Homo sapiens: one gene and its partners. The protein of the gene in region 1 purifies or fractionates together with the protein of each later gene. This does not show direct contact. Each region holds a gene or a part of one and is shown on either strand. Other genes may lie near its edges.

Region 1 (4,134 bases):
TAATGGCTGACTGAGGCCATCATTATTCAGTAGGATGACCAAACAGCTCAGAAACTTAAGGGTGAAGAGTTTAGACAAGTTTTTGCTGAAATTGTGTTAATTTTTTAACATTATATTCCCTAATGTGAAAAAAAAAAACTAACTGACCTGCAAGCTGAGATTATAATAACCTTGAGATATGTTTTTTTCTCTTTTTTTTGAGATGGAGTTTTGCTCTTGTGTCCAGGCTGGAGTGCAATGGCCTGATCTTGGCTCACTGCAACCTCTGCCTCCCAGGGTCAAGCAATTCTCCTTCCTCAGCCTCCCGAGTAGCTGGGATTACAGGCATGTGCCAACACACCAGGCTAATTTTGTATTTTTTAGTAGAGATGGGGTTTCACTATCTTAGTCAGGCTGGTCTCGAACTTCTGACCTCGTGATCCGCTCACCTTGATCTCCCAAAGTGCTGGGATTATAGATTACAGGCGTGAGCCACCGCGCCCGGCTAAAATATGTTTTGTTACTACAATAATACAAATTTATTATTGCTTAATTATCTGGGAATTTTGTAAAACAACTTCTTCTTGTGGCCTTTCATATCTTATAATTTATATACTATTTTGAAATAAAAATTTATTCTTATTTAAATTGCAGTTACTTTTAGAAGATTTCACTTTTTTTTTTTTTTGAAATGGAGTCACGCCCTTGTTGCCCAGGCTGGAGTGCAGTGGTGCCATCTCGGCTCACTGCAGCCTCCACCTCCCGGGTTCAAGTGATTCTTCTGCCTCAGCCTCCCGGGTTCAAGTGATTCTCCTGCCTTGGCCTCCCAAATACCTGGGATTACAGGTGCCTGCCACCACACCTGGCTAATTTTGTATTGTTAGTAGAGACAGGGTTTCTCCATGTTGGTTAGGCTGGACTCGAACTCCTGACCTCAGATGATCCACCCGCCTCAGCCTCCCAGAGTGTTGGGATTACAGGCGTGAGCCACCATGCGTGGCCAGGAAGATTTCACTTGTAAGGAAAAACATGAGAATAATTCGTGGCATGTGGTGGCTCATACCTATAATCCCAGCACTTTGGGAGGCTGAGGTGGAAGGATTGCTTGAACCTAGGAGTTCGAGACCAGGCTAGGCAACATAGTGAGACTCCATCTCTACAAAAAATTAAAAAATAAATAATCCTGGCATGGTGGTGGACTCCTGGAGTCCCAGCTAATCAAGAGGCTGAGGCAGGAGGATTGCTTGAGCCCAGGAGGTCAAGACTGCGGTGAGCTGTCATCACACCACTGCATTCCAGCTTGAGTGACAGAGCAAGACCCTGTTTCCAAAAAAACAGAGTAACCATATTTAAATTATCTTTTATGATACATTTTAAAATTAGTGTCAGGTCAAAATTCTCTTACTAAAAAATTTGGGAAGTACGGTCTTACGCTAAAATACAGCTTGAGACTTTTTTTAATCAGTCAGGTAATGATGTTAGTAAGTAAGCACTGTGTCAAGAATTGTCTAGTATAGTTATATGAAAACCTATGGTACTAAAGAACAAATTATGCTAAATTTGGGTGGTGGGTTTCTTCTTATAGGGAACTATTAGGATAAAAATTCATCTTAAGAATGCTTTTTTGAAATTTTTATTCAATCAAAACTTACCTACTAAGTTTTGCTGTATGATGCTGTTTAAGATTCTGAATGTGTTTGACTGTAGTATGAATAAAATACAAAAAAAATTTCAAAAATTGGCTCGGCACTGTGGCTCATGCCTGTAATCCCAGCACTTTGGAAGGCTGAGGCGGATGGATCACCTGAGGTCAGGAGTTTTTGAGACCAGCCTGGCCAACATGATGAAAACCTGTCTCAGCCGGGCACGGTGGCTCATGCCTGTAATCCCAGCACTTTGGGAGGCTGAGGCAGGAGGATCACTTGAGGTCGGGAGTTCGAGACCAACCCAACCAACATGGAGAAACCTCGTCTCTACTAAAAATACAAAATTAGCCGGACGTGGTGGCACATGCCTGTAATCTCAGCTACTTGGGAGGCCGAGGCAGGAGAATTGCTTGAACCCGGGAGGTGGAGGTTGTGGTGAGCTGAGATCACGCCATTGCACTTCAGCCTGGGCAATAAGAGCGGCACAACTCCGTCTAAAAAAAAAAAATAAAATAAAACCTATCTCTACTAATTATGCAAAAAATTAGCCAGGTGTGGTGGTGGGCACCTGTAATTCCATCTGCTCAGGAGGCTGAGGTAGGAAATCACTTGAAACCGGGAGGCAGAGGTTGCAGTGAGTTGAGATAGTACCACTGCACTCCAGCCTGGGCAACAAGAGTGAAACTGTGTCTGAAAAAAAAATTTTTTTTTCAAAAATTATTTTATCATTAATAGCAATATGTTGTAGTACTCTTTAATGAAGCTCTTTCTACTTTTTTTTTTTAGACAGAGTCTCACTCTTTTGCCCAGACTGGAGTGCAGTGGCACAATCTTGGCTCACTGCTACCTCCATCTCCCAGGTTCAACCGATTCTCATGCCTCAGCCTTCTGAGTAGCTGGGACTGGGATTAAAGGTGTGTGCCACCACACCCAGCTAATTTTTATATTTTTAGTAAAGATGGGGTTTTTACCATGTTGGCCAGGCTGGCCTTGAACTCCTGACCTGAAATGATCTGCCCACCTTGGCCTCCCAAAGTGTAGGGATTACAGGTGTGAGCCACTGTGCCCGGCCAATCTTTATCTCTATTTTATTTTCATAAATACCCTAAGGAATTTGCTAGAGTAAGTATTAATAGTATGAGTAGTAATCTATTGAAACTTTCTCTGTCAGTGATTTTCCATTTAAAAGGTAAACCTTAGGTTTAATCTGATGGTAAGTTAAATTGCATTTTTTTTTTTTTTTTGGAGACGGAGTCTCCCCCATCACCCAGGCTAGAGGCGTGATCTCGGCTCACTGCAACCTCCCACCTCCTGGGTTCAAGCGATTCCCCTCACTCAGCCTCAGAAGCAGCTGGGACTACAGGCGCACACCACCACGCCTGGCTAATGTTTGTATTTTTAGTAGAGACGGGGTTTCGTCATGTTGGCCAAGCTAGTCACGAACTCCTGATCTCAAGTGATCTCCCATCTTGGCCTCCCAAAATGGTGGGATTACAGGTGCAAGCCACCGTGCCCGGCTGCACTTTTCTGGTTTTCTAAAGTCATAGGATTTCAAAATAGGGAAGGGGCTTTTAGAGGTAACCTAGTCTGAATACTTAGTTGTTCACAATTCTCCTTATAACGGTCATCCAGAGTGTTTAACTCCATCTTGAGAAGCTGATTTCCTTTTAAGGTTCATACTACTAATAAAGTACACTTTGTTTAAATATTCAGAAAACTTATTGAAAATATGTTATGATTAAAGGTTAAGTGTGCTTATCTGACGGTTTATTGGAATCTTGTCTTTGTGGGTTTTTTTAAGTCCTCATGGACATCTCTTTCCCCAACCTGTGAGAATGTTTGCAAAACTGAGATTTAAAGCTAAAAGGCAGACAAACTTTGATTTGTAGTTATTTTAGTTTATAATACTTTGTTCCCTAAATGTCATTGTGAGATTGCTGCTTCTCACGTTAACTTTTTTCTTTTACATTGAGGTGTAACTTACAGTGTAATGCACAAATTTCAAGCGTACAGTTCAATAAATTTTCATATGTGTACACCTGTTTTGTAGCCATCACGCAGATCAAGATATATAACATTTTTATAGCACTCTAGTGGGTTGTTTCATCTCCTTTCCAGTCAATACTTCTTCACAAAGGTAATTTATTCTGACCTTTATCATTGGGTGACTATTTATTTCATTAACATGACATTTTATTCTAGCAAGAGGCTTGGGCTGAAAACTGCAGAAAATACTGAGAGTTGAGATGTTTTAAGGTTAGGTGTGCCCTTTTTTAAAAAAAAGATTATTTTTGGCTGACAGTTTGTTGGCATCTATTAAGTTTTTTTTTTATATATGATTTGAAAATACTATGATTCCCATTGCTTTTTGATGGGAAGCAAATTTTCAGTCTTCTGAGTCATTAAGTCATCAGCATGATGGTTTCCTGTTTTGATTAAATCACTTCATCTTTCTCCCTATTATTTTTGATAATAAAAAGTATTACTTGGAATGCCTGTAATTTAATAG
Region 2 (4,134 bases), on another chromosome or scaffold:
ATTATTTTTTAAATGGTTTAAAAACAAAACCAAAACAAGAGTATTTTCTGACGTGTGATAATTATACAAAATTCAAATTTCAGTGTCCATAAAAAAAGTTTTACTGAAAGACAGCCATGCTCAATTGTTTATTACCTATGGCTTCATTTGAACTGCAGAATCGATTAGCTGTGACAGAGGCTACATGTGGTACTCTCATGACTTCAAACTGGTGCTTGGAGCACCACAGATTAGTGACACAGTTGTAACTCAAACGCAGTTTAGGAGTCACATGAATCACCATGTCATGACATTTTGTTACCAGTGTATACTCATGTCAAAATAAGGGGAAAATGGACTTCTCATGTCATCCTTTTGAAGTATAGTGAAGTGAGATATTATTAGATGGCAAAGCATTGTATTTATTATATAATGGTGCCATAACTGTGCTAAATAAAACAATACAATGTAAATTGATATTTCCAGACTAAGCACTCATAAGAATATTCTCATAACACTATAAACAGCATACCATAGTACAGCAAAATTTCTTCACAAAATTAAAAAAACAGAAATGAGGCTGTGATCAAAATAAAGTTTCTGAGCGGCTCACGTGTTAGATAAGCAAGGAAAGCTGTGCACCAAGTCAATTAATTAAATCATGTTTGATTACACCACCCAAAAAAATGTGTCCAGACAAATTAAAGTTGTTTAAAACTATTAGCTGAGTGGGCAAGAACTTGCTCAAAGAGTTGAAGACACTGGAACCAACATCAACAGTCAATTAAAAAACAAGGCAAATGATTGCAAATGATTTTCCTTTGCTCCTGATGAGCAGGCAAGATGTTACACTGATACTGCTCAATCACTGTTTATTTGAGGAGTCAGTATCAATTTTAAGTTGACTGAAAAGTCAGCCTCTATGGATAGCATGCATGGAATAACTACAAGCAAAAAACACTAGCTCAGTATAATACAAAGTAGAATCTGCTAAGATGTGTCATAACTGATGGCAAAAAATAACTAACATTGCGAACATCCAAATTCCTAAGTACCTCTATAGATCTCTCTCTCAAACTGCAGCCACAGATAAGGAAAAATAACTCCTTCAACAACTCAGAGATAATTTTATATCCATCAGTAGAGAACAAAGCCTCATTCAGATATGGAAGTTAGGCAGTTAGACTAACTCAATAGGTAAAAAAATTTCCTTTAACACTGGCTTCAAATTTTTGTCTTCAGTTTAAAACATCCAAAATACTAGAATATAAACTTCCAAGGTCATTGTCATTTTTTACTAGTTGAAACTAACTAAAATGAAAATTGCCAAACTACTTTTAAAAAAGGGTATTTAATGGGAGTTTTGACATTTATATACACTTCTAATTCTTTTTTTTTTTTGAGATGGAGTCTCACTCTGTAGCCCAGGCTGGACTGCAGTGGTGCCATCTCGGCTCACTGCAACCTCCACCTCCCAGGTTCAAGCAATTCTCCCACCTCAGCCTCCTGAGTAGCTGGGATTACAGGCGCACGCCACCACGCCCGGCTAATTTTTCTATTTTTAGTAGGATGGGGTTTCACCATGTTGGTCAGGCTGGTCTCAAACCCCTGACCTCATAATCCACCCACCTCGTCCTCCCAAAGTGCTGGGATTACAGGCATGAGCCACGGCACTGGCCTTTTATACACTTCTAATTCTTTTTTTAAGGCAGGGTCTCACACTGTTGCCCAGGCTAGAGTGTAGTGGCAGGAACATGGCTTCCTGCAGACTCAACTTCCTGGGCTCAGGTACTCCCACCTCAGCCTCCTGGGTAGTTGGGACTACAGATGCATGCCACCACATCTGGCTAATTTTTTTTCTGTAGAGATGGGGTTTTGCCATGTTGCCTAGCCTGGTCTCAAACTCCTGGGCTCAAGAGATCCGCCCACCTCAGCCTCCCAAAGTGGAGGGATTACAGGCCTGGGCCATAGTGCCTGGCCACACTTCTAAGTCTTAATAATTGAAGAATTGGGCAAATTTCCTGCATTTCTTCATTGTTTTGTAATGAATTCATAGAAAATTCACCATTAACTATTTCAACCTATGGTTTACCTAATATTTTTTAAAGCCATAGACTTTATTTATTGTGTTTTAATGAAAACACTTTATCACTGAAAAGAGTATCAATATAAATTAACATACTTTAGTAATTCAAGGATGGCAAGCACAATATCATTAACGTAACAGAATCCTGATGCTTCTGATTTCTTAGCATGATGTAATCCTCCAGCCCAATTAACAGCCATATCAGTCTGTTGTCGGTTTAACTTCACAGCTCCAGCTAAGAAGTAGAAACAAGATAGACCTTTTAAACATTTATCATAAAAAAGTAGTAGAATGAGACAAAAACACTACAAGTGTATGCCATGCATAAGCAAGAGCTTAAAATCATGAAAGTTAACAGAAATCATCTATAACACAAATAGGAGTTACTCCTTAGAAAAATATTCTCCTAGAGCTGCAACCTGAGATTAAATAATGGTTTATGTGGAAAGTGGTAGTAACAATGATACCTAGAAGACAAAGGGAATGAATGAAGTCTCCAAGTGAAAATAAGTTTAAAAAGCGTTTAAGTCATAATCATAAAACATAGAGGTTTGAAAGTAAATTGTACTTTACTATAAACATACTGATTTCCTTTTGTTATCAAAATTCACAATCATTAAAACTTCTGTTTTACACAAATAACCCGAAAGATAACACACCAAGTTCAGATCAACTTTTAAATCTGATTGCATTAGCACTTACCAACTGAACCGCCAGTTGAGAGCTGACAAAACTCAAAGAGTCCATCAAACACTGGACAATCTTCTCCAACATTAACTGTGGAAGATGGATTTCATTAATTTCAACACATTCTGCAAATTAATGAAAGCCTTTTCTTACAAAAACTATTTCCCACAAATACTTTTTTGCTTGATGCAATCATCAAACATACACTTCACAGTATAATATAAAGTTTCCAACTTTAAAATATATTTATTGTTTTATCCAAGGTAATTAAAGTGTTATCTGTGAAAGATCATCAAATCTTATCAGGATTATCTGTGGAATATTTCTGTCTATTAACAAGAACTCAATAGTTGTCTAAGTACAACAATTCTTATTTAATTAAAACACAGGCTTAAATTTTCTAGGCCTTTCCCCTTAATATTACAATAAGTTAACATTCTAAAAGCAACTTCAATTGCTTTATAATTTACTTTCTTTGAAACTCCTTAAATACCTATAATATCTGTAACTTTGAAATGCATGTCAGTAAGTTACTAAACCAAAAAGATGTAACAGCTGGTTGCCTATTCCCATGGCTAATCTTGATCTTGAAAGTTGCTAAGAATTAACTAGGTTCATGGGAGCCAAAACATAGGATACTAAAGACAACAAGGAAAACATTTACAGATAAACGATCACACATTTAGTTCCTTAGCACTGAGAGAATGAAAGGATATGGCAGATGTATGTAACCCTTTCTTAGTCTTTCCCTATGCCCTTGAATTGTAACCTCTTCAAGAATAAGGGTCCTTGTTTTGTATATTAATATCTTTGTATACCCTTAAGTCACAAGCACTATAAGAAATGAATTTTAGTTTCTTACTGCACAGAGAGATCATAATCTTTTTTTTTTTTTGGAGACAGAGTCTCACTCTGTCGCCCAGGCTGGAGTGCAATGGCGTGAGCTTGGCTCACTGCAACCTCCACCTCTGGGGCTCAAGCAAGCAATTCTCCTGTCTCAGCCTACAGAGTAGTGGGATTACAGGCGCGCACCACCACACCCAGCTAATTTTCTGTACTTTTTTAATAGAGACAGGGTTTTGCCATGTTGGCCAGGCTGGTTTCGAACTCCTGACCTCAGGTAATCCACTCACCTCCGCCTCCCAAAGTGCTGGGATTACAGGCGTGAGCCACCACACCTGGCCAGGATCATAAGCTTAATAGAACTCATTATTATGTGGGTTTTAAATCAATCCTGTTATGTTGTTTGCCCAAGGGCTACTCATGCCTCTTTTGCATCTAAGTTGGAATCTTCATTGAAAAAAAAAAAATTAAATACTACATGTTCTAGTTACATTGTAGCATTATAACAAATCAAACAAGATATGGCAGAAATGTGTATG
Region 3 (4,134 bases), on another chromosome or scaffold:
CATAAACACACTCACAAAAACAACTTATTTCTATACTACAATCAATTAGGTTTTTTTTTTCCTTAGAGACATGGCCTCGCTATGTTTCCCAGGCTGCAGTCAGTAGCTATTCATTCACAGGCACGATCACTGTGCACTACAGCCTTGAACTCCTGGGCTCAAAAGCGATCCTCTCGCCTCAGCCTCACCACATCTGGCTACTGTTTATATTTGGTGTAAGGACGGGATGTTTACTTTCTGGAAATAAGTTAGAGTTGTTCATAATTGAAGTTGCAGAATGAGGAATTATTGTCAATAATAAACATTAACTCAAAATCCCTTCATTAACTGTTTATTGCCTTAGAATTAAAAGGTGAAATGTATAGTTAAAAAAATCTACACATAAACTGATGTGCAATCCCTATACTTCACTCAAAGCCTGTTGCATCCCAGGAGTAAAATATAATTACAAATCAGTACTATAGATCTGTCTAAAGATATGGCAATAAAACTTTGAGAAATGTGTAAGCCAAGGAAATGTTTTTATGGTTTTTCTCTTAAAAACTTCAATTTGTAGAATTTGCCAGTGCTCAACAGTGAAATCACTCTTTATGTATCAATATCAGCCCTGTCCTTATACCTAGCCCAAAGACTTTAGTAGTAACAACTACTAAAAAACAAAACCCAGCCCTCCAAGTGAGACATTTTTTTCCTTCCCACAAAACTAACCAAACAATCTCAAACCTGTGGGATTGCTAGACAATACTTATCTTCCACCTGTCAGTATAGTTGCTAAAACTCACCATTTTAATCCCAAATTTTATCTAATGTAATTTTACAATTTTTTGTAGAGACAGGGTCTATGTTGCCCAGGTTGGTCTCGAACTCCTGGGTTCAAGCGATCCTCCTGCTTCAGCCTCACAAAGTACTGGGATTATAGACATGAGCCGCCATGCCTGGCCCCCTATCTAATGTAATTTTAATATTAAACAAGCTAAGAAATAATTCTAAGAAGAAATTACACACAATGCTCACAAATTATTGGCACCTTCAGGGGCAATTCAGTTGCCAGGGCATCAGACTTCCAAACCTTGCTGTACGCTTCATACAACCTCTTTATAGTTTTGATTTAGGTTTTATTTTACTACTAAAATTGTTTTTAAATCAAATACAATGCCCCCAACTGTCTGCTTTAAAGGTTTTCTACATCTTCAAGTATTTATCACGGCAAGAGTTTGCTCCATCAGAACCCTGAACATTAGCTATTTTAAGTTTTACATACAAGCATTTTATTCTCCAGCGTCTCTTCTATATACTGAGGATTACTGCCTCTATAATTAAGGCAGCCTTGGTTTTAATATATAGGTTGAGCATCCCAAATCCAAAATGTTCCAAAATCCAAAACTTTAAGCACCACGTGACACTCAGAATTTGGACTTTCACACCGAGTGCAATGGCTCATGCCTGTAATCCCAGCACTTTGGGAGGCCAAGGCGGGAGAATCACGTGGGGTCAGGAGTCTGAGACCAGCCTGGCCAATATGGCAAAGCTCTGCCTTTATTTATTTATTTTTTTAGTAAAAAATACAAAACCGGGCATGGTGGCTGTGGCAGTGCTTGTAGACCTGTAGACCCACCTCCTCGGGAAGCTGAGGCATGAGAACTGCTTGAACCTGGGAGGCAGAGGTTACAGTGAGCCAAGATTGCGCCACTGCACTCCAGCCTGCGTGACAGAGCAAGATTCAGTCTCCAAAAAAAAAAAAAGAAAAGAAAAGAAAAGAAAAAGAAGAAGAATTTGGACTTTCAGTTCAGATTTGAGATGCTCAACCAATAAAGTATAATGCAAATATTCCAAAATCCTAAAAATTCCAAAACCCCAAACACTTCTTATTCCAAGTATTTTGGATAAGGGATATTCAACCTGTACTAAATTCAGTCCACTTCAAAGCAATATATTTAATACAAGCAGGAAATAAGTTATTTTTTGGTAATTTTATGATTTAAACTTAAGATGACATCTTACGGAGGAGTATGTAACTGAGCAACTTTATTAAGTTCTAAAGGCTCAGATGAACAAGTAAAGGAGTCTAAAATTCTTAGAACAGCAAGTCTGAACTAAAGGAACTTTAAAAATTGGCAGAAACTCTTTATACAATGAGGCCCCAGAGAACATAAGCTCTCTGACAGCTTGGGCTGTCCTTGTCCCCTTCACAAAGGTCTCCCCAGCAGTTACACAACCCACAGCAGGAGTGCACATCTGCAGAATGAATCACTGAAAGCAAAGTAAATGGTACAAAAACCCAGAAAAAACAGTCCTGCCTACACGTACTGAGATCCAATGAGACATAAAACAGCTAACATCTTGATTTCTCTATATCAAGTGTGTTTTAAATACAGTCATTTGAATGCAAAAACAAAAACAGACACATACACCTTCATGCCTGAATATTAAGAGACAAAACTCACACTAGAGAAATTTATTTTATGGTCCATTTGCTGCTTCACTTCTATTTTACAGAACAAAGGCTCTTTAGGAAGATGCTTAGAAGTTTCTTTAATATTAGGTTTCTTGAAGGGGGGATTACCAAATTGCTTTTCTAGTTTATGAATGACTATGTAACTTGCCAGATAGGCACATTTATGCAGTATCTTGTCACAGGACTGTAAGTTACCTTAAATCCCACACATTCAGGCGGCGGTCAGTACCACTTGAAGCCAGAATAGTTTCATTATGTGGAGACCAGTGGACCTAGTAATAGATAATTTTGAAAATGTATTTAAAGAATCATCCGCTGCTAGGTTTGTGGCTGTTGTTCTAATCTGATATTTTCCCATCTTGCACTCTATTATCTTATCCTTGGCCTGATGGCCTCACTCTCTTGTCCCCGACTTTCAAGTGCTCTGCAAGGGCTCAGCTCCATCCTGTCCTCAGGAAGGCTGCACTCCCCAGCACTGAGGAACTCAGCCTGGGATCTCAATAAATTTATTCGACCCCATAACCATCCCAGAAGCTTTTTAATTCTTCAACAAGGTGTACCTTACCCTATGAGCATCTCCATGTAACACCACGTACAAGACATTTTTTTCAATAGTGGACCCACGAGTCTGGTATAGCTTAACTGATGAATCCCTGGATTTCATTTCCTGACATACAGACACCAGAAAACTGTCACATACCTGGAAAATTTCATCTTTATGAGATTCGAAGGTATGGAGTTTTAATTTTAAGTTACGCAGATCCCATAAAGCTACGGTCTAAAGAAAAATAACAAGTGAAAATGATTTCTATGCTTTACCTAAGAATTTTCAAATATCTGATTAAGGCACAAGAGAACTGGGTTTTATAAACACCAAATAATGCAAAAACTTCGAAACCTTATCCGCAGAGCCGGTGGCTAGAATAAATTCGCTGTAGGGATTGAATGAGAGGCAGTTGACTTCGGCAGTGTGCGCATCCACCAAGTGACTCGGCTTGGAGGTGGTATTGGACCTGGTGTCCCATCTAAAACACAAAGGTAAAGGCACACGGCACCCAGGGATGACACACTCACATTCGGCCTCACATCACTGTCACTGCACTCCACAACTAGCTCCACTATGTGCTCCCCTTCATGAAGAAACCAACCACACAGCTGGTGATTCAGACCTCGACCACTAAATGATACATTCGAAACCTACAGAGAACAAGCTAGGGCTGTTAGTCCTGTTTTTTAAATTAGATTCCTATTTTAATTACCAACTATTTCAAGTGTACACAAAATACAGACTATGTAGAGAATAATGTCACAATCTGATACCTAAAACTAGTTTTGACAAATGCCCAGTATTTTGTCACATTTGCCTCAGGTATTTCTTTATAAGATTATAAGTGAATGAAGCCCTGTGGCCACACCTTGATGAAATCATTTTCCTCCTCGACCTCCAACTGGCATCACTCTGGATCTCAATTTTGATATTTACCACCACACCAAGTATGTTCCTTCACATGTCCATACCTAGTTTTCTTTTTTTCTAAATAATAAGTGATCCTCCCACTTCAGCCTCCTGAGTAGCTAGGACTACAGGTGCACACCACCATACCCAACTAATTTTTTGTTTTTAAATTTTGTGTAGAGTCTCACACTCCTGGTCTCAAGCAATCCTCCTGCCTCAGCTT
Region 4 (3,999 bases), on another chromosome or scaffold:
ACCTGAGGTCAAGAGCTCAAGACCAGCCTGACCAACATGGCGAAACCCTGTTTCTACTAAAATAAAAAATTAGCCAGGCGGGTTGACGTGCGCCTGTAATCCCAACTACTCGGAAGGCTGAGGCAGGAGAATCGCTTGAATCCGGGAGGCGGAGGCTGCAGTGAGCTGAGAACGCGCCACTGCACTCCAGCCTGGGCGACAGAGCCAGACTCCGTCTCAAAAAAAAAAAAAAAGCATTTCACACCAAGTATCACTAAAGCACAGATCCTTGGGGCCTTTGCAATTGCTGTTCTCTCTTCCTGTAGTGTTCTTATCTTCATAAACACATGGCTTGCTTCCCCACCTCTTCAAGGGCTCCGTTCAAATGACTCCCCCCCGCCCCGCCTAACCTCTAATTTCCAGTCTCCTTCCTCTCTTTTCATGTCACCACCACCTGATTTACGTAGGCGTTTGTGTCTCCCCTCCTTGAAACTTAACTTCGTGAAGGTAGAATCTTATCTGATTTGGTGCAGTATCTCCATAACCCAGTTAGACAGTAAATTTTTGTTGAATTTACCAGTGTATGGTTACTGTCCCAATTCTGGACACAAATTCTATAATACATATGAAAAGGAGCTGAAAATATATAGTAATACATAAATGTAAAACATTATTGCTGCCTGAATTTAACTTTTGCTGACTGGATCCACAGACAAGAAAGAGAAATACCAAATACAACTAATTCAACTCTGTTTATTTTTGACGAAACCGATTTCTTTCATTCAGTTCATACTACGCGTCCACACTGTGCCTCCAAAAATATTTGCCCTTATAACTGAATGCTCAGAAAGGCTAAGAAATCTGCCCAAGGTCCCCTGGCAATCCAGCCAGAGATGTGAGTCACTCTTAAGGTTGGATTTAATACAAATGTTTGAAGGACGGAGCGACAGGCCAGCTGCCCTAGGGAAGCAAAATGCTAAGTGCTCTGATGCGAGGACCGGAGGACAAGGTTCGCGGATGAACCACAGGAACTTCCGGGTTTTAAAGATCCTGGCGCCAAGTTCAGGGCGTTGACCGCGAAGGACGAGGCGTCCCCGTGACGTCCTGCTCTTCCAATGAACTTCAGGCCTGCGGAGACGACGGAGAACGGAAGTTCTCTGCCTGTGTGCTGGTTGGTTGCGCGTTGAGGCCAGCCCCGCCTCCCATCTTCCGGTCTCCTCAGAAGTCGCTTAGCTCTTCGGTGGTTGTCCCACGTCCGGAGGCCTAGCCGTCGCTTACCTAGGATGCCGCGTGGAAGCCGAAGCCGCACCTCCCGCATGGCCCCTCCGGCCAGGTGAGACCATCGCAGGGTTTGAGACCAAAGCGCGGCCGTCCGGACTCTACTGGGGCAATGACGCAGAGGGAGGCCGCGGGCGGGGGTGAACTAAGGTCGGCTGCGGCGTGGGCTCGCCTCTGCCAGGCGGGGGTAGATTGAACGTAAAGCCTATGTTAGGGGAGTGTGGGGAGGGAATTCACTTACGGAAAAAGCTTCCTATCCAAACAACGGGAAAGGCATAACGTTATGGCCAGGTGGTAGGAAGGCATAAATTTTGACCTAGCTTGATTTCGGGGAAAAGAGCACCCAAGGAAATAATCCGGAAATGGTCAGAGGGAGCGTGATACATATGAAGATTTTTAAATACGTGCAGGACATAATTAGTCTTTTGTTATTTGAGAAGGGGTCTCGAAATTGTTGAAAGCATCTGAACGTTGAACAGATGAGGAATAGTTGAAGTTGCTTTTGGTATAATAGTTCAGACGAGTCACTTTGGCCAGTCTTGTTTTGTAATGTGTAAAATGAAGGAATTGGACTAGATTATTTCCCCAGTTGACCATCTTTAAGTCCTAATTAGAATGTTTATTTATTTATATTTTGAGTCAGAGTCTAACTCAGGCTGTAGTGCAGTGACGTAATTATGGCTAACTGCAGCCTTGACTTCCTGGGCTCAAGCTATTCTACCACGTCAGCCTCCAGAGTAACTGGGACTACAGGCATGCGCCACCTGTGCACCACACTTGGCGACTTTATTCTATTTTATATTTTAGCAGAGACAGGGTCTCATTATGTGGCCCTGGCTGGTCTCAAAGTCCTGGCCTCAAATGATCCTTTCGCCTCCACTTCCCTAATCACTGGGATTACAGGCAAGAGCCACCACTCCGCAGCCTATGTTAATTATTTGATCCGTCAATAAAATGTAAACTCCATGAATGCAGAGATTTTTGTCTCTTGTTCACAGTTACATTACCAGCGCCTTGTAGTTACCTAATACTTGAATGAATGAATCCTGTAAGAATCTTTCTAACTTTTAGTAGTCTGTATTTCTTATGACATGTTGGATATGTCTTTAAAGATACTGTGGGCTATCCGAATACATGGAAATTGTTGCAAAGAAGCAGAAAAAACTAGTATGTCCTAGGCTATTACTATTATAAGAAAAGATTAAAGTGGCCGGGCGTGGTGGCTCATGCCTGTAATCCCAACACTTTGGGAGGTCGAGGCGGGTGGATCACTTGAGGTCAGGAGTTCGAGACGAGCCTGGCCAACATGGTGAAACTCCGTCTCTACTAGAAATACAAAAATTAGCTAGGTGTGGTGGTGCGCGCCTGTAATCCCAGCTACTTGGGAAGCGGAGGCAGAAGAATCGGTTGAACCCAGGAGGCAGAGGTTGCAGTGAGATTGGATCGTGACACTGCACTCCAGTCTGGGCATCAGAGTGAGGCCCTGTCTCAAAAAAAAAAAAAAAATTAGGCCGTGCGTGGTGGTTCACACCTGTAATCCCAGCACTTTGGGAGTCCGAGGCGGGTGGATCACCTGAGGTCAGGAGCTGGAGACCAGCCATGGTCACCATAGTGAAACCTCGTCTCAACTAAAAATACAAAAAATTAGCCGGAGGTGGTCGCGGGTGCCTGTAATCCCAGCTACTCGGAAGGCTGAGGCAAGAGAATCGCTTGAGTCTGGGAGGTGGAGGTTGCAGTGAGCTGAGATTGCACCATTGCACTCCAGCCTGGGCAACAAGAGCGAAGCTCCATCTCAAAAAAAAAAAAATTGAAGAGAGAAAATGATGTAAATAATTTGAAATGAAAATCTTGAGGTCCATTTTAATATGTAAGTTATTTTAAGTTGACAATTTCCAAAACTGGTTGGAATTGGGAACTTGATGTTTTTTTCTTTTCTTTCACAGCCGGGCCCCTCAGATGAGAGCTGCACCCAGGCCAGCACCAGTCGCTCAGCCACCAGCAGCGGCACCCCCATCTGCAGTTGGCTCTTCTGCTGCTGCGCCCCGGCAGCCAGGTCTGATGGCCCAGATGGCAACCACTGCAGCTGGCGTGGCTGTGGGCTCTGCTGTGGGGCACACATTGGGTCACGCCATTACTGGGGGCTTCAGTGGAGGAAGTAATGCTGAGCCTGCGAGGCCTGACATCACTTACCAGGTGGGAATTTAGGCAGCATTTCCCTTCCATGGGTGGATTTTATGAGAAAAGCCAGACGTTTGTAAGTTCCTTAAGTGTAGGAATTGTCTTTGATTTTAGAACCCACTGTGCTGTTAATAGACAATGGGTTTTAAAGCCACATTTGGCCGTTGAGTTACTGCCTTAGGCCAGCACCAACAAGTACTGTACAAATTGTGTTTCTTCCCAAGGAGGAGACTTACAACAGTCCACTTGACTCACTGTAAAACAACCACTTTTCCCTTTGAATATTTCATCCCAGTGACACTTCCTACTAATCTTGTCTTGATCTTAGTTAACAAATCAAAAATCTCGCATAGCTGTGTGTTCTTTTACGTGATGTTTGCCATTACCCATCTTTCTGATGTGTGTGGGCTTTCTAGTCTAATGAGCATAGGTGTGTATACTCTTGTATTTCCGGTGTGCTTGAAACTGCTCCATCCAGTTTTCTATAATAGTACCATTTTTCCTCCCTGAAGCTTCAGTAAACCATTTAGTCTTGATAACAAGATAATAATTCCACTTTATTTG
Region 5 (4,134 bases), on another chromosome or scaffold:
TTCATCAAATTACTTAAGAGAAATCCAGTCTTGCCTCTTGATCTCAGAAAATTAGTTGGAGAACAGAGTATTTTTGAGTTAAATTTTAACTTTCCTCTTTTTCAGTTGGGATGAATGGGTTCCGGAGAGCAGAGTACTCAAATACGTGGACACCAATTTGCAGAAACAGCGAGAACTTCAAAAAGCCAATCAGTAAGTTTGTTTTGTGAACTGAATATTAAGGAGAAATGCCTGTAGATTAATTCTGGACATGGAATGAACAATGGAGATCATGTTGGCTGCCCTGCCTATAAAATGATTCCTGGTACCTTTCAGCTGCTGTGTTACAGCTTTGACTTCAAGCGATCAAGCCATATCTAGGTAAAGGAAGTAGCATACCTGCCATTACTTGAGCTTATCTTAGACCTAGGTAGAAAACAGCAGAATGTTGTTGGAAATTGCTATAGGTATGAACTCACTGATAAAAATCTTTATTTTCGGGGGCTCTGGAAGACAAATTTGGTGGGGAAACAAGCAAACGAGGCATTTCCTATTCTGCTTTTCATCTCTGAAAGCACGGGAAAAGGGACCCTGAAAGACTCTATGATTTATAGGGTAATCTCAAAGTTGAAATGTATTTTTAAAAAAATTAAAACGATGGCTGGGCGCAGTGGCTCACGCCTGTAATCCCAGCATTTTGGGAGGCCAAGGCGGGTGGATCACGAGGTCAGGAGATCAAGACCATCCTGGCTAACACGGTGAAACCCCGTCTCTACTAAAAATTCAAAAAATTAGCCGGGCATGGTGGCGGGCGCCTGTAGTCCCAGCTACTCCGGAGGCTGAGGCAGGAGAATGGCGTGAACCCGGGAGGCAGAGCTTTCAGTGAGCGGAGATCGCGCCACTGCAGTGTAGCCTGGGCAGCACAGTGAAACTCTGTCTCAAAAAAAAAAAAAAAAAGAATTAAAATGGTAATGGGAACAAATAAAACACTGGGATTAGTGAATTCCAAAACAAATGGAATTTTCAATGCTATGAGAACAGTCTATTACAGTCACTTTTTATTACATTGATTTTAATTGAGCCTTTTGCTGTTTCTTGAGTGTTTTGTTTGATTTTTGTGGAAATATCTCTGTCCAACTTGTTAAAAACTTGTTGCCAGAATTTGAATGTAAATTCCTAATGGAATCAGGCTGACAATTTTTTTTTCACATAAATGCTCATTTTATGTTGACATTACTGAAATTATTTTTGAAGGGAGCAGTATGCAGAGGGGAAGATGAGAGGGGCTGCCCCAGGAAAGAAGACATCTGGTCTGCAACAGAAAAATGTTGAAGTGTAAGAAGCTCTTTGTTTTGATTTTGCATACTATATGTGAAGATAATATTTTATGTTCATTGTGTGTTAGACTGTGTTGAAGTGGAAACTTTGGAACATTGTTGGAACCAGTAAGAATCCCATTCCTCAGGTATCAGGTCGTTAAAGTAGTTTAAAATAACGTATTCCTTAATTTTCCTCAGCAGGTTCCCCCTCCCTTTAACTTGTGTGTATAAATATATGTGTGTGATGTTTTCTCTTACAAAGATAGTACTAGTGGTTATAAGTTTTGAGATAACTTTTGGCAAGCCTTTTCAAACCTAAAAAGCAAGTGCTGGCAAGTGCTAAAAATACATACGAATTAACCTCCACTTTGGTGAAACTCATGGTAAGAATATGTGAGAAGTTAAGGTTTCAAATAACTGCCCTCCTCATCCCCACCCCTAAGAAAACCATTGCTTTTTTTTGAGACAGAGTTTCCCTCTTGTTGCCCAGGCTGGAGTGCAGTGGTGTGATCTGTGCTCACTGCAACCTCTGCCTCCTGGGTTCAAGTGATTCTCCTGCCTCAGCCTCCCAAGTAGCGGGGATTACAGGCGTGTGCCACCACGCCTGGCTGATTTTTGTATTTTTAGTAGAGATGGAGTTTCACCATGTTGGTCAGGCTGACCTCCTGACCTCAGGTGATCCACCTGCCTTGGCCTCCCAGAGTGCTGGGATTATAGGCGTGAGCCACTGCTCCTGGCACAAAACCATTACTTCTTGTTAACTCTAGATTTTAGAACATCTGATAAGAAGCCTAGAGTGAGAAAGTCATGTGCATGCATACATTTTGTATGTTTAAAGTTTATGTAGGACGGTGCGGTGGCTCACACCTGTAATCCCCCTACTTTGTTTGGGAGGCTGAGGCAGGAGAATGGTTTGAGCCCAGGAGTTTGAGACCAACTTGGGCAACATCGGGAGCCTCTGGTTCTACAGAAAAATAAAAAAATTAGCTCGGGGGTGGTGGCACATGCTTGTAGTCCCACCTATTCAGGAGGCCGATGTGGGAGGGTCACTTGAGCCCAGGAGGTCAAGGCTGCACTTTAGTCTTGGCGACTGAGTGAGATCCTGTCTTTTAAAAAGAAAAAAAAAAAAGTTGATGTACCTGAAAGTGGATGACAAGAGTGGTAACTTAATAAGTATTCTTAAGTATTTGTAATAATAAAAACAAAAATTATAACTTTTATTAAGAGGTCATTTTATTTCCTACCAGAATTACTGATCTGATTTTTCTACTTAAAAGTAAGGTGTTACACCCAGTGCTTTGGGAGGCTGAGGTGGGAGGGATTGCTTGAGGCCAGGAGTTCTAGGCTGCAGTGATCTGTGATTGCACCACTGCGCTCCAGCCTCTTAAAAAAAGTAAGGTGTTACTAATGAAGGTATTTAGTATTTAATGCATTTGGAGATGTTTGAAGCTTTTTATTTTTTTTTAAACTCTTTTTGGTGAGAAGATAATTGGCAAGGATTAAGTGTGTTACTATTTGAGGATTGTTCATAGTTTTAATAAGTGGTAACATGTTTTCATGATCTGGTTCTTTGGAAAACTGTAGTGTAGTATTTCATTAGGATTTAATAGTAATTATGTCTTAAAAGGCAGTAATTTTCTCTATATAGAAAAGATTTTTATCAAAAGTAATAGTTCATAACTAATTCTTTATCACTGTGCTAAGTTATTATATAGAAATCTTAAGTGGTAGTATGCCCATAAGTTATTTGCATTTGAATACAGCATTGTGCAGTCTCCACTACAAAAATAATGGCTGAGTAAATATATGAAGTAAAGCTTTAAAATTTAAATTTCCCATTCTTGAACAGTAGAAGCCTCTTCAAACTGGCTTCTGAGTCTTTTGAAGGATCCTCAGTCTAGACGTTTGAAGCATGAATGTCAAGCTCTTACTACTAGGACTTATTGAAGTGTATGGGTTGAATATCCCTTATCTGAAGTGTTTCGGACCAGAAGCGTTTCAGATTCCAGACTTTTTTTGGATTTTGAAATGTTTGCGTTATACTTACCTGTTGAACATCCCAAATCCAAAATGCTTCAATGAGCATTTCCTTTGAATGTCATGTTGGCTCAGAAAATTGGGATTTTTGGAGCATTTTGGCTTTGGGATGCTGAACTCATCTATATTTTATAGATCTTTTACTTTAGAGTTGAGATCACCTGTCAGTATTTTAGTTTTATATTACAGAGGTGAGTGGGTAAAGGATTGAGTGTGAAGACTATTGGTTTCTCTTGGTCTCCACATATTGACACGTGCAAGTAAAGTTCATGGTTGACTTTGACCGAGAAATACAGTCCAACAGATTTTTACAAAACTAACAGACAAGAGAAAACCTATACACAGATTTTTGTGTTTATATCCAAACATAAGTTAATTTGAATTGTCAAACCTTAAGACCTAAATTAAATGAATATATTTAATTAATAACATTTATAAGTATTATTTAAAGCTACAGAAAAGTAAAAAATCCAGGTGTTATAGTATCTTTCCATCGAAAGTAATCCATAATCATGGGCTCTATAAACTGTTTCCTTTGTGGTCTAGAAATAATAATGTAAAAAAGCAAAATTAGGCCAGGCATGGTGGCACACGCCTGTAATAGCATTTTGGAAGGCCGAGGTATGCGAATCACTTGAGGTCAGGAGTTTGAGACCAGCCTGGCCAACATGGTGAAATCCCGTCTCTTAAAATACAAAAATGAGCTGGGAGTGGTGGTGGGTGCCTATGGTCCCAGCTACTTGGAAGGCTGAGGCAGGAGAATCGCTTGAACCCGGGAGGAGGAGGTTGCAGTGAGCCG
Region 6 (4,134 bases), on another chromosome or scaffold:
AAAAAAAAAAAAAAAAATTAAGTGATAAGGAATCTGTGGTTCCTTCATCTTGATGAAGAGCATGTTTCATTTAAGTTCCAGTTTGGAATATTACCCCCCAGCCACCAGCATAAAATACGAATGCTACTTACTCATGTTCCCTTGAGCCAGGACTAGGTAAGTGCACAGTGATCCCTTTTGCTTCTCCATTTTCTATGACGACTACTCCTTGTTGACATATTTGACACTGTTGTTTTACTATAATAGATGAAGCTGTAATGAAGTCTATTCTGGGTAGGGTCTGAGATGCTGTCACCTCCGCTAATGTCAAGTTGGTGGTGCAGTAAGTGGCATGATAGAATGAGCTCTGAGCTTTAAATCAGGAACTCTGGGTTCATCTGACCCTGGCTTTGCTACAGAACTAGCTGTATCAACAACTACTTTTTTTTTTTTTCTTGATGGCTGCTGGCTGTTTGCTAACTGCTTTATAAATATCAGTGTCCTTAAATTTTGGTACAAACGTGCAGTGTTCTAATAGGATTATTCCATACATATTGTTCTAAATCTTGCTTTTTGTTTTTTCTTTTAACAATATTATTTGGTGATCTTTCTCAGCTGAATGATTAAAAATCTGCCTCCTGTTTCATTAATTCATTCAAAAATGTGCTAGGCATTATTTCAGGTACCAAAATGTGGCTGTGAACAAACCAAAGACTTTACGTTGTTCTTAATGGCTGCGTGGTATTCATTATTATAGATGTACCATATTTATTCAACCATTCCCCTTCAAATACACCAGTAGGTTATTTCCAATTTTTTTAAAGCAACAATGAGATACTGAGTATATGTGTCGTGCTAAGACTTCCTACTGATAATCTACTTATATTATGTTGTGTAATTCTTTTTTCTTAGTGATTTATGGTATATTTTTGTAGTTTTACCAGTCTGATTATCTGTCTTAACTTTTCAGTATTTTTCTTAACAATGAGGTGTTTAAATCCTCTGAAATGTATTTTGCATATGTATCATACAAAGTCTGTAGGAATATGACTTCCTTTCCCAATGGATTATTAATTTTTATAGCAGCATTTATTGAATTATTTTTCTTACCTATTGATTTCTCCATATATTCTCAGATCTCTGTGATTTTCCATTTTAATCCTCTGATCCATCTGCTTGGGTTATACTGTCTTTCGGTAACATTATTTTGATATAATTTCAAACTTTAAAAAGGCTGCAAGAACAATACCCAACACTCCCACATAACCTCTACCCAGATTCATTGACTCTTAACATTTTGCCCCATTTGCTTTATCATTCTCTATCTTGCTACAGATAGTTTTTTTTTTGAAACCATAAGTTGGAGACAGTAAGCACTTTTATCTCTAAATATTTCAGTGCGTATTTCCCAAGAATGGGAATATTTATCTTTTTTTTTTTTTTCTGAGACAGGGTCTCACTCTGTCACCCAGCCTGGAGCACAGTTGTGTGATCTCTGCTCACTGCAACCTCTGCCTCCTGGGCTCAAGGGATCCTCCCACCTCAGCCTCCCCAGTAGTTGGGACTACAGGTGTGTACCACTGTGCCTGGCTCATTTTTGTATTATTTTGTAGAGATGGGTTTTTGCCATATTGCCCAAGCTGGTCTCGAATTCCTGGGCTCAAGCAATCCGCCCATCTTGGCCTCCCAAAGTGCTGGGGATTATAGGCATCAGCCACTGTGCCTGGCTGGGAATATCAATCTTACATCGTTTCAGTACACTAATCATAATCAGGAAATTAAACACTGGTACATTTATCTATATACCATATGCAAATTTTGTCAATTGTCCTATTTTTTTTTTTTTTTTCCTGTTTCAAGATCCAATCTGGAATCTTGGATTTCATTGAACTGTTCAGTTCTTCAGGCTTTGTCTTTTTATGACCTTGACATTTTTGAAGTCCTGTTTTATAGGAATGTCCCTCAGTTTGGGTTTGTCTGATGTTCCCTCAAGGTTAGATTCAGGATGTGCATTTTTAAAGTCATAAGTCCTTAGTGCATCATATTAGAAGATATGTGTGTCCCATTGTAGGCAAAGCTAAACTCAAAGAACTTGACTAGGGTATTATCTGCCAGTTTTCTCCACTGTAAACTTGCTGTTTTTCCCTTTGTAGTTGCTACACTGCTGATTATATCCAATTTAAATTGTAATATCTGGTATTCTTGGCAATTTATATTTTCCCATAGCCTTTAGAATCACTCAATCTTCCAATCCAAGATCGTGGTATGTTTTTGCATTTTTTCCTTTAATATATTTGAGTTTTTTCTTCATATAGGCTTTTTACCTTGTTAAATGTATTCTGAGGGTTTTGGTGTTTTTGTTTGTTTCTGAGAGAGGGTCTTACTCTGTCGCCCAGGCTGGAATGCAGTGGCATAATCTTGGCTCACTACAACCTCCGCCTCATGGGCTCAAGTGATGCTCCCACCTCTGCTGGGATTACAGGGGTGAGCCAGACAGAGTCTCGCTCCATCACCCAGGCTGGAGTACAGTGGTGCCATCTCTGCAACCTCTGCCTCCCGGGTTCAAACAATTGCCTCAGCCTCTCGAGTAGCTGAGATTACAGGTCTGCGCACCATACCCAGCTAATTTTTGTGTTTTTTGTAGAAATGGCATTTCGTCACGTAGGCCAGGCTGGTGTTGAACTCCTGGATTCATGTGATCTGCCCACCTCAGCCTCCCCAAAGTGCTGGGATTACAGACAGGCATGAGCCACTGTGCCTGGCCTATTCTGTTTGTTTGGTTTTTTAACATGTTTTGCAGCCATTATTATGATTTCCTTTTTTTTCTTTTTCTTTTTTTTTTTTTTTTTTTTTTTGTTGTTGTTGTTGCCCAGGCTAGAGTAGAATGGCGCAATCTTGGCTCACCGCAACCTCCGCCTCCCGGGTTCAAGTGATTCTCCTACCTCAGCCTCCCAAGTAGCTGGGATTATAGATGCCCACCACCACGCCTGGCTAATTTTGTATTTTTAGTAGTAGAGACAGGGTTTCTCCATGTTGGTCAGGCTGGTCTCAAACTCCTGACCTCAGGTGATATGCCCGCCTCGGCTTCCCAAAGTGCTGGGATTACAGGCATGAGCCATTGCGCACGGCCCATTAGTATTATTTCTTAAATCATTGAGCATCTTGAGTTTGTTTTTTTGTTTGTTGGTTTGTTTGTTTTGCGACGGAGTCTTGCTCTGTCACCCAGGCTGGAGTACAGTGGCGCGATCTCAGCTCACTGCAAGCTCTGCCTCCCAGGTTCATGCCATTCTCCTGCCTCAGCCTCCGGAGTAGCTGGGACTACAGGCACCCGCCACCACGCCTGGCTAATTTTTTGTATTTTTAGTAGAGACGGGGTTTCACCGTGTTAGCCAGGATGGTCTCGATCTCCTGACCTCGTGATCCCCTGCCTTTGCCTCCCAAAGTGCTGGGATTACAGGCGTGAGGCAGCGCACCCGGCCTTTTTTTTTTTCTTTTTTAAATAAGGCATATCATATTGCTTTGATTATAAAAATACCACTTGATTTTGTATTTTTTCCAGTATTCTACTTATTTGGTCTTTTGATGATGGTATAAATACTAAGTGAGGCATTATGTGAAAAATGAATATTTCAGTGCTTCATAGCGTGACATTTTATTTTTATTTTATTTATTTATTTCTTTGAGATGGAGTCTTGCTCTGTCAACCAGGCTAGAGTACAGTGGCATGATGGCTCACTGAAACCTCTGCCTCCGGGGTTCAAGCAACTCTCCTGCCCCAACTGCCCAAGTAGCTGGGATTACAGGCGCCCACCACCACACCCGGCTAATTTTTGTATTTTTAGTAGAGACAGGGTTTCACCATGTTGGCCAGGCTGGTCTCGAACTCTGGACCTCGTGATCCACCTGCTTCAGCCTCCCAAAGTGCTGGGGTTAAAGGCGTAAGCCACCGTGTGTGGCTGAGCCACCATGCCCAGCTATTTTTACTTTTATTTTATTTATTTATTTTTGAGACGAAGTCTTGCTGTGTTGCCCAGGCTGGAGTGCAAAGGCGCCATCTTGGCTCACTGCAACCTCTATAGTGTGACACTTTAAATTTCGTAATTTTATATTTGTTGATTTCTTCCAAATGCTTGTATTTACAAATTTTTCTGTTTG
Region 7 (4,134 bases), on another chromosome or scaffold:
TAGTTTTACTCTTGAGGGAGCCAAATAATGGCAAAAGGCCAAAGCAGATGGGGTGTGGGGGAATATGTTTTTGTGTTAGAGTTCAGGTAACCTGAGCAGTTACTACTGTTAATGTGAGTCAGAGAATTACAGGCACATATTTTACATTTATTGTGTTACCTGCCATTTTATTGAACTTTTTGAGATCATATGACTGCAGAGTAGTTGGCTTCTGCGAGAGTACTAATGGATGCCTTGGTAGTAAGATCAGAGGGCTGAATCTGGAGACTTGTCTTTTTGCTTAAGCAAAAGCAAAGATGCAGGGAATCCCTGTGGCAAGATGCAGGTGCAAATTACTGCCCTGTGTCTCTTTCCTCGTTGGGCAAGTGAAGATGGTAGTACCATGTCTGTTGCACAGTATCATTCTTTACTTTGAGAATGGAATAGGATGGAGGTCACCCTGTACATATATTAGACACTCAGCAAAGACTTGATTTTAGTTTAAAGATAAAATGGAAGCATGGTGGCTGTATTACATTTTCATTTGATTCCATCTTGATTTGCCTTGGGAGGAGATGGGTAAATTAAGTGATCAGAAGTAAAATAAGCAACGTGCCCTATTAACGAATGTTTTGTGTGGCCTCTGTATTGGCAGCTCAGTGTTTAGCCAGAATGTAAAGAAACTGATATATAAAAACGTCTTAGAGTTTTTAAAATTTCAGTTCTCTAGTGTTAAAAGGTAATTTTACAGAAAAAATGGCAAGTGAACACATGTTGAAACTTTTACTCAGAGGGAACCAGGCAAATGTTATACAGTAATGGTTAACCCGCAAAATCAAAACAGTACAAATTTATTAATATATGGAGTAAAGGAATGGAGAGATGAATTCCAAATGGAGACAGAAACTTTTTTTTCCCTTGAGTGGAAGGGAAGACATTTTGAACCTCTACTGTAGAGACAAAATTTACATGTCTATCAGTTATTCATAATGAAAAAAGAGTTGTGGCTGGGCGCAGTGGCTCACACCTGTAATCCCAGCACTTTAGGTGGCTGAGGTGGGAGGATCCTTTGAGTCCAGGAGTTTGAGACCAGCCTGGGCGACATCGTGAAACTCTGTCTCTACCAAAAATTAGCTGGGTGTGGTGGCCAGCTCCTGTTGTCCCAGCTACTCAGGAGGCTAAGGTGGGGGGAAGATCACTTGAGTCTGGGAGGTGGAGGTTGCGTTGAACCAAGGACAGAGTGGGTGACAGAGGGAGAGCCTGTCTCAAAAAAGAGTTGTAAGATAGCTCAAAGACATAGTGGAGGGCTATAGTCTGGTAACTTGGAAGGATGTGCTATATAGATAATGCATAGTTTTCCACTGAGATACAGAATTGTTTTCTACGTTTGATGTTAATTATGTGAATACAACTGAAAAGGTGGAGAGAAAAAGAGATTAAAATACCACATTTTCTATTTCTGTAAAGACTAATGATATTCACATTAAATTACAATTCAAATATTTGTTGAGTACGTACTGCTTGCTACCCGCCTATTATTTCATTTATGATATTTTTTAACCTTCTATATAAAACCAACTTTAGGAAGCAATAATTTAAAAATAGCCCCTAAAGCAGTGTTTCCTAGGCTGTTTAATAGGCATTTCATGGAAAAAAAAAAAAAAAAAGGCTTCCTCTGGAATGTATTTTAGAACTGCTGCCCTAAGATCCTAGATTAAATAAATCTTTTCTTTCCAAAGGAGACATTGGAATCTGTAATCAGGAGGTAGTGGAATCCTCTTCTGAGATTAGAGAGCTGAGATTAGAGGGCCACTCGTGTGTGAGATAAGGTATGAATTAGGAGAATTTTCAAGGTTTCCTGCAGTCATTTCTTTTTTTTGGAAGGATTTACTTTAATTGTGATTGAGAGTCTCTGGAGTTCTGATTTATGAGTATTATTACTTTAGAACAATGAGACAGTTTTAACTTGTAAATAGCATAGAATATATGTAGCACTTTAAAAAAATTCTAAATGTTTTGCGTTATAAGCAGAATTTGAATAACAGGATTTTAAAAAGTGACATCTAATGTAGAAGCCATTAACACTCCTGCTTCAAACGGCTCCCCAGCTCCATGCTCCAGACTGAGCAGCAGTCAAATACATTATGAAGACATATACATCAGTCAGATTTAAGAGTCACAGCTTTGGGATGGAATTACCAGCCAAGAGACCAGTTAGGCTTTTTCAGCACTTCCAGTACCTTTTGTAAAGAGCTGTAAAGATTCACTGATACAGTGTATTAAAGTGACTGGAACAGACCAGTGCCTTATTAAAGACAGTATTACTCTTCCATTATTCTCATTAGTATTTATTTCATTTTCATTTTTGTTGAAATATAAAATATCTACAAACCTTCTAACCTGTAGCTGGATTATGTTTATCCTTATGTGGAGGCAAGAATACATTTTTTTCTTCTTGTAGAAATTATTTCTCTTAGGTCAGTCAGCATCTTCCCAGTAGAGTTATTTACTGCTAAAAACAGTATTGCTGTTTCATGTAATTTTTCCTCATTTACTGCTTACAGGATGACGCTGTCAGTATAGAAAGTGGTACAAACACTGAACGCCCTGATACACCTACAAACACGCCAAATGCACCTGGAAGGAAAAGTTGGGGAAAGGGAAAATGGAAGTCAAAGAAATGCAAATATTCTTTCAAATGTGTAAATAGTCTCAAGGTATGTGCAAAAAAAGATCCTTTGGGCTGAATGCTAGGCTTCAGAAATTATTTCTCTGTGGCACGCATTTCGTACTCAGGATACTCTGTCAAGTTGTAAATATTTTAAAGTTACAATGTTTTCTGAAGGGTTTTTTTTTTTGTAGTTCAGACTGCGTATCTATTTTAGTCCATCCCATGTTTAGTTTTTTGGTTTTGTTTTTTGTTGTTTTAATTTAAATATGTGACAGTGTTGCAGGATGTTTTTGCTTTATTGTTTGCATTCAAATTATAAGATTTGGGTAACTATTACTCTTTATATTTTAGTAAAACTTAAAAAACATAAGCCACTTCTGGCATCAGTTTTTAAAAAGAACTGAATGTAACCCATTAACTTTGACTAAGTATAAATTGAAACAGATGTTTTACTTTGTACAGTTTCTGTCCTTTGTTTTATTTATAACTGTTTTCAAAGAAAAAGGTGTAAAAAATTTTTAAACTTTTTAATATTAAATATTTAGGGAAAAGGGGGTTTTGGTTATTTAAATTAATCTGTCCCCAATAGTATTTTTATTTACTTTATAAAAGGGGTTACTGGTGTTTAAGATATTTTCTTTTATATATGTCCAGTTTGTTTTTTAAATGTGAGGCTATTTTTTTCTATACTGAGGAAAAATGTGTATTATCTCATACATATGTAAGTTAAAACCTTTTCTAAATATCCAAATATATTTTTTATAAGTAAAGTTTTGGGAAAGCATAAGAAGCTATGACTATGACATTTTTCTGTCTGTGTAGCAAAAATTCGATGCTCAGTGTGTCAGATTTTGCTCCTGTAAAAGGAGAGAAATTAATCTCAGCATATTTTTTAAAAGTCAATTATAGTTTCATGTGCATATTTATTTACATTAACGTACTACTTTTAGGTACTGTACCTGGAAGATGTTTTTAGCTGCCTTTTATACTTAAGGCAGTATTTCAAAATCCTAAAGCTGTGGCTTTTCAAATGATGAGAAAACGAAAGACGTACTTTAAAAGTGAAAACAGTGCCTTAAACTGCATCTGAAAGTCAGTGTTAAATGCCAGAAGTTGGCCAGTAAAATCCTAAAGCTGAAAAATAACTTTGTGAACAAAAGTGCATAATTGTTCTTTGTACATCTCCTATAGCCTCCTGGTAACTGTGCAGTTACAGTTTATTTCTTCCCCTAGTCCCCAGTGTTCAGATATTCTCATTCTGACTAACAGAAAACAGTGATTTGAATGGAGTCTGCTATGCTTCACTTTACAAGGGAAAAATTTAGCCTTATAAAATTTAGTGAATGCCAGAGAAGCTATTAAGGCCATCTGTTAATTTCCTGTTTCAGAAAAATAAATTGTGTCCTTTTGTATCCACCAAAATTATCCAGTTTATTGTGATTCAGAATATGATTGGCTTATTAAGAAAAAGGCAAATATTATAA

Evidence for each region.
Region 2: the proteins of KDM5A (region 1) and HDAC2 purify together in Homo sapiens (affinity purification with western blotting; 2 studies listed by BioGRID and IntAct, with this or other methods). This does not show direct contact.
Region 3: the proteins of KDM5A (region 1) and RBBP7 purify together in Homo sapiens (affinity purification with mass spectrometry; 4 studies listed by BioGRID and IntAct, with this or other methods). This does not show direct contact.
Region 4: the proteins of KDM5A (region 1) and CHCHD2 purify together in Homo sapiens (affinity purification with mass spectrometry; one large-scale study listed by BioGRID and IntAct). This does not show direct contact.
Region 5: the proteins of KDM5A (region 1) and MORF4L1 purify together in Homo sapiens (affinity purification with mass spectrometry; 7 studies listed by BioGRID and IntAct, with this or other methods). This does not show direct contact.
Region 6: the proteins of KDM5A (region 1) and LIN28A purify together in Homo sapiens (co-immunoprecipitation; one large-scale study listed by IntAct). This does not show direct contact.
Region 7: the proteins of KDM5A (region 1) and EED purify together in Homo sapiens (affinity purification with western blotting, with the first as the bait; one study listed by BioGRID). This does not show direct contact.

What each region holds. Positions count from the first base shown.
Region 1 is NC_000012.12:378,997-383,130, reverse strand, and holds part of KDM5A (lysine-specific demethylase 5A), read left to right. Parts: intron 1-4,134. UniProt on the Homo sapiens protein: Histone demethylase that specifically demethylates 'Lys-4' of histone H3, thereby playing a central role in histone code. Does not demethylate histone H3 'Lys-9', H3 'Lys-27', H3 'Lys-36', H3 'Lys-79' or H4 'Lys-20'.
Region 2 is NC_000006.12:113,953,852-113,957,985, forward strand, and holds part of HDAC2 (histone deacetylase 2), read right to left. Parts: intron 2,843-4,134; coding exon 2,768-2,842; intron 2,301-2,767; coding exon 2,162-2,300; intron 1-2,161. UniProt on the Homo sapiens protein: Histone deacetylase that catalyzes the deacetylation of lysine residues on the N-terminal part of the core histones (H2A, H2B, H3 and H4).
Region 3 is NC_000023.11:16,849,396-16,853,529, forward strand, and holds part of RBBP7 (histone-binding protein RBBP7), read right to left. Parts: intron 3,481-4,134; coding exon 3,354-3,480; intron 3,234-3,353; coding exon 3,156-3,233; coding exon of another isoform or gene 3,021-3,155; intron 2,728-3,020; coding exon 2,651-2,727; intron 1-2,650. UniProt on the Homo sapiens protein: Core histone-binding subunit that may target chromatin remodeling factors, histone acetyltransferases and histone deacetylases to their histone substrates in a manner that is regulated by nucleosomal DNA.
Region 4 is NC_000007.14:56,103,677-56,107,675, reverse strand, and holds the start of CHCHD2 (coiled-coil-helix-coiled-coil-helix domain-containing protein 2 isoform 2 precursor), read left to right. Parts: upstream 1-1,199; 5' UTR 1,200-1,262; coding exon 1,263-1,312; intron 1,313-3,200; coding exon 3,201-3,450; intron 3,451-3,999. UniProt on the Homo sapiens protein: Transcription factor. Binds to the oxygen responsive element of COX4I2 and activates its transcription under hypoxia conditions (4% oxygen), as well as normoxia conditions (20% oxygen).
Region 5 is NC_000015.10:78,886,036-78,890,169, forward strand, and holds part of MORF4L1 (mortality factor 4-like protein 1), read left to right. Parts: intron 1-105; coding exon 106-192; intron 193-1,233; coding exon 1,234-1,314; intron 1,315-4,134. UniProt on the Homo sapiens protein: Component of the NuA4 histone acetyltransferase (HAT) complex which is involved in transcriptional activation of select genes principally by acetylation of nucleosomal histones H4 and H2A.
Region 6 is NC_000001.11:26,420,603-26,424,736, forward strand, and holds part of LIN28A (protein lin-28 homolog A), read left to right. Parts: intron 1-4,134. UniProt on the Homo sapiens protein: RNA-binding protein that inhibits processing of pre-let-7 miRNAs and regulates translation of mRNAs that control developmental timing, pluripotency and metabolism.
Region 7 is NC_000011.10:86,247,753-86,251,886, forward strand, and holds part of EED (polycomb protein EED), read left to right. Parts: intron 1-1,696; exon of another isoform or gene 1,697-1,808; intron 1,809-2,543; coding exon 2,544-2,696; intron 2,697-4,134. UniProt on the Homo sapiens protein: Polycomb group (PcG) protein. Component of the PRC2/EED-EZH2 complex, which methylates 'Lys-9' and 'Lys-27' of histone H3, leading to transcriptional repression of the affected target gene.